Linked DNA regions of Homo sapiens: region 2 is linked to region 1. A link means that fine-mapping ties the variant in region 1 to the expression of a gene that starts in the linked region. Tissue or cell type: whole blood. Region 1 holds a variant in brackets; the other region holds the start of a gene. All regions are shown on one strand. Distances are from middle to middle.

Region 1 (2,690 bases):
TTGCCCCATGTTGTATAATCAGTAAGTGGCAGAGCTTGGATTCCAAACTCTGAAATCCAAGTAACTACTATATTGTGGTGTCATTTATTCTTTGGAGATGATGAATTCTAAGGCTCTTATTCTTCTTTCAAAATAAGGTCTTATTATTAGATCTTACACCGAATACTCTGATGATGAAATGCACCTACTGAATATCTAGGTAAACGTAAAATGCCACTTTAAATACATTGCCATTATTTTTGCTATAAATTATATGTATATGCCACAATACATTGCTATTCTTTTGGCTTCAAATATATTTAAGTATAGGTAAAATATGTTTAATGCAAAAGAATAACAACATATTATAGAAGTAGCATATATGGCAACAAGAACACAAAAGACCAGAGTAAATGGAGTTATATGGTTATATAAGGCTTACATTATTTACTTAATAGTAAAACAGTATTTGTAGTTTGTGATAAGTTAAAGATCAACATTGTAATCTCTAGAATACCCACTAAAAAATAACACTAAATAGGTGTAGCTAAAAATGTCCATAGATGAGATAGAATGGCATATTTTAAATTAATATATATTACCCAAAAGAAGGCAAGAAAACTGAAACAGAGAAACAAAGAACAAATAGAAAATAAATAATGAAATAGGACACTGACCAAAATTTGAAAACAGGCTGGGTGCGGTGGCTCATGCCTGTAATCCCAGCACTTTGGGAGGATAAGGCGGGTGGATGACAAGATCAGGAGTTCGAGACCAGCCTGGCCAATATGGTGAAACCCCGTCTCTATGAAAAATACAAAAATTAGCTGGGCGTGGTGGTGTGCACCTGTAGTCCCAGCTACTCGGGAGGCTGAGGCAGGAGAATCGCCCGAACCCGGGAGGTGGAGGCTGCAGTGAGCCAAGATCGCACCACTGCACTCCAGACTGGGTGACAGGGTGAGACTCCATCACAAAAAAAAAAAAAAAAAAAAAAAATTAAAAACAACCAAATGTCTGTTATAATAGCTATCCACTGCTGCATCACAAATTACCCAAAAAGTAAAGGGAAACAACGTTTATTATCTCAGTTTCTGCGGGTCAAAAATCTCATCAAAAAAGCAGCAGTATCTTCTCTCATAAGGTTCCAGTAAACGTGCTGATTGGATTTGGAGATCATCTCAAGGCTCTGCTTGGAGAAGGATTTACTTCCAAGTCTACTTACATGGCTGTTGGAAAGACTCAATTTTTCACAGACTGTTAGACTGATGGCCTGAGTTCTTCACTGACTGTTGGCCAGAGGTCTTCAGCTCCTTGACATGTGGACCCCATGACAGCTTGCTTTATCACAACAAGCAGGCCAGAAGAACCACAGAGAAGAAGAGACATGGAAGTCAAATGTTTTATATCCAAATCTTGGAAGTGACACGCCATGGCGTTTGCCATATTCTATTTATTAGAAAAGAGTTGCTAGGTTGAACCCATCCTCATAGGGAGGAGATTACACAAGGATGTGAATGAATACCAGGAGGTGAGGATCACTGGAAGCCATGAAAGAGGATACCTATTGCATCTGTCAGCAAGAAAATGGATTTTAAAAGTGTAATATTTTTATACA[A/T]TGGAATCAGTTTTAAAAAAAAAAAAAAGCCACCAATACCCACAGCAACATAGATTAACCTCAAAAAATTTTACTCAATTATGTTGAGCAAAATATGAATTTCCAAAACAGGCAAAATTAATCTGCAATAACAGAAATCGGAACATTGCTTAACTCTGAGGGTTTGAAAGATGTCTTAATTTGTTTGTACTGTTGTAATAGAATACCGCAGACTGAGTAATTTATAATGAACAGAAACTTATTGGCTCACAGTTCTGGGGGCTCAGAAGTCCAATATCAAGGTGCCAACATCTGGCAAGGACCTTCTTGCTGCATCATCACATGACGGAAGAGCAAAAGGGCAAGAGAGGGAGAGAGTGCAAGACAGCATCAATCCATTCGTGTCTTAATCACCTCTTAAAGGTCCCACTTCTTAATACTGTTACAAGAGCAGGTACTTTTTTCTTTTTTGAGACAGAGTCTCACACTGTCACCTGGGCTGGTGTACAGTGGCACCATCTCGGCTCACTGCAATCTCCACCTCGTGGATTCATGTGATTCTTGGGCCTCAGCCTCCTGAGTAGCCATGATTACAGGCATGCGCCACCATGCCCAGCTAATTTTTTGTATTTTTAGTAGAGACTGGGTTTCACTATGTTGGCCTGGTTAGTCTCGAAATCCTGACCTCGTGATCCGCCCACCTCGGCCTCTCAAAGTGCTGGGATTACAAACATGAGCCACCGCACCCAGCCGGGCAAGTACATTTCTACATGAGTTTTGGAGGGAGCAAATATTCAAACCATAGCAAAGAATATTGCCTGGGAAGAAGCATGAGGAAAAGTTCTTAGGTGCTATAAGTATTCTGTCTTATTTTGTCTAAACTCATTGAACTGAACATGTAATGTTTGTGCATTTTATTGTATGTAAACTATATGCCCATAAATATAATAATAAAGAAAAATAAAAATAGATATTTAAAGAGTAATCTGGTTTTATTTCTTAAAAATAAAAGTAATATCAACATTCTGAACTTTTTTGGTCAATGTTAAATAAAACATATCAGCCTAATATCATCTTCTCCCAACACAAGAATCTAGACACGGTGAAGGAATAAATG
Region 2 (2,690 bases), 32 kb after region 1:
CTAGCAAGTTGGCTTTTTCAAAGAACTCCAACATCATTGGAGGGACTAAGAAAGCATGGGAGAAATGAATGCTATAATAGGAGTGAATGGGAAGCAATTTGAGACCAAAAGTAGAGAATCTAAGTAGCAAAAAATGACCAATTTTGTAAAAAAATCAAAAGTTGCCAATAAATGGCTATCAATGAACAATAGGAAATGCCATTAGCATCAGCGGTAGTGGGAGTATTATCAGATATGTTACCCAAGGATTCTACACAAAGGAAGAGGAAAGTTTGGGATATTTGAAGACATGATGACTTTACTGTAATAATTATTATCTATTACCTTGATCGTCTTCTTCAAAGTTAGAGTGGTCTAGGGAAGCTAGGGACAAGTTTTTATTAACTTTGTTAGTCTACCCACCTTTCTCCCAACACTTCAAGAATTTGTGGCCTGGGAAAACTGTGTTATAATAGGACATCCCAAAGCTGCTGGAACATCCTGACGCTCTGAAATTGAAATACTTTTCTGGGAGCTGATACATTTATTTAGCTGCTGACCATAACACACCAAAGACTGCAACAGACCCCACCCTGGAAGAAAAGCAGGCAGAGAATAAGGAAGTCATATATCACTGGAGAAAAATTAGGATTCTCCAAGCTGTGCATACTTTTTGTTTTAAATTTTTTACACAGGCTTGACAATGTTTAGAAAAGCCAGTCCAACATTACCAATAAAAGATTAGTGTTTAACCCCATATCCCATAATTGACACTGCAAATAAGACATTTAGGATTTATCTTGAAATTCCTACTGAAGTTCGATTTTCTTTTAATCACTGCTAAATCTGCATCAAGTTACACAAACTTTCTAACAGAAAAGTGTTTGTGACTAACAATAAATGAACTCCGTTCTTAGTAAGTTAATTTTAAAACATAGATGATCATTCTATCTCCTTAGTTTTGGTTGCCAATGCAAATGAGTCAGAGGATTTGCTTCAGACACTGAGATAATTGTGTAACTCTACAGCGGAAAATGCCATTGGAGAGTACTTGCTGACCTCACAGTTGAAAAAAACTATTTAAAAGATGTGGAAACCAGATGTTTCAGTCACATTTCAGCCACTGCTCTGAGAATTTGTGAGCAGCCCCTAACAGGCTGTTACTTCACTACAACTGACGATATGATCATCTTAATTTACTTATTTCTCTTGCTATGGGAAGACACTCAAGGATGGGGATTCAAGGATGGAATTTTTCATAACTCCATATGGCTTGGTAAGAACCTTCACTCATGAGCCTCTTGTTGAGAATGTCAATTCTTTAAATCATGGAGAAGGAAATTTAAAGCAGTAACTTTTTCTATTCTGTACAAGGCTGATGTTCTCAAAGAAAATGCTTAGGAAAGATAGCCTTTGGAATACATACGCTTTTTTTTTTTTAAGCGTTCTTGTCCTCTAAAATTTAAAAATAGCATTTTATAAAGTGAATTGTTCAGTAGAAAATAGCAGTTAATATTTATATTCAGTATGAAAATATATTTTTAAACTTTTCAAAGCAGATGTAGTAGTACAGTGAGGAGTATTTCTTTAACCAACTAGAAACTCCAATATAGTCTTCTGTTTTTATGTCAATGCATTTGCAATCAGATTTCAGAATCCTAACAGGTAAATTGGAGTCTACGAAAATTTTATAATAATTGCTTCATGGACTCTGAGCTATAGTCTATATCTTAGTTTTTTCAAACATTTTGACTATTTTGACCAAGCCAGCTTGCAGTACAGAAAAAAGTGAAAAATGTTTCTCCTTCTGAATGCATTCTTACCACTTTGATTCTTTCTGTTTCTACTATCCATATAAATACTTTTCTGACCCTTTTGTTAGACAAGGAAAGTTTCTTTTGTTATTTTGTTTTGTTAAATGTAAGGAATGAGACAGGCCAAACAGTGAAGATAAACAATAGATCAAAAAAGGAAAATGCAGAAAATCCAAAACACCCCTTAGATTACAGTATGCTAAACAATGCTTTAATTCTCATGATACAAATTGATATTGCTCTATGTTCATTATTGTGTTTAATAGTAAAAAAAAATTGAATTTCTTGGGGAAAAATGCATAGATTCTTGCATAGAATAAAGAAATAAAGAGAAGGCGAAATTAACCTAGATTTTGATTTTATGCTTTCTAAACAGCACAGTTGTAGAATATTTTCCCTTTCAGCATGTTTCTCTCTGGTAATAACTGCAACCATGCGGATTTCATTAAAAAGCCTAATTTGTAATGCACAGCCTTGCCGCCTATTTTTTTCAGCTTGAGCCAGTGAACTAATTTCACTGTGATCCATTTGGCCAAGACGGGATCTGAAATTTAGTAGAGGAATGAGCCCATCTCTTTATTTTAGTTGAATACAGTCAAATATAGGAAATACACTCATATTTGTCAGGATTTTTTTTAAATGTCATAAAGCTAGTAAGAATTAAATCCAGGCAGATAAACTTTGAAATATTATCAAACCCTCTAATAATCAAGTAATTTAGAGTTGTCTTTTAAAGTGTTGTCATATGTTACAAAAATATAAACCTGGACAATAGAAGTTTTGCCCCAGAGGTAGAGAGAAGCAAATTCAAACGTCTATTAATGTATGCTACAAATCTGAGGGTCAGGATAATTGCAAATTGCTTCAATCTGGGGCAAATTTTTGACCAGCCAGCCT

The links. PIP is the estimated chance that this variant, and not a neighbour inherited with it, causes the effect.
Region 2: TNFAIP6 starts here. The variant in region 1 is fine-mapped to the expression of TNFAIP6 in whole blood (TOPMed, PIP above 0.99).

What each region holds. Positions count from the first base shown.
Region 1 is chr2:151,324,035-151,326,724 of GRCh38, forward strand. No RefSeq gene overlaps it. Among named protein-coding and RNA genes, the nearest start is that of TNFAIP6, 32 kb to the right of the region's middle. The variant A/T (reference allele first, on the strand shown) is at 1,595.
Region 2 is chr2:151,356,506-151,359,195 of GRCh38, forward strand. TNFAIP6 (TNF alpha induced protein 6) reads left to right here and starts at 1,087. Exons shown (of 6, transcript NM_007115.4): 1 at 1,087-1,255. The coding sequence starts at 1,162. The region is part of intron 2 of LOC101929319 (a long non-coding RNA gene); the gene reads right to left.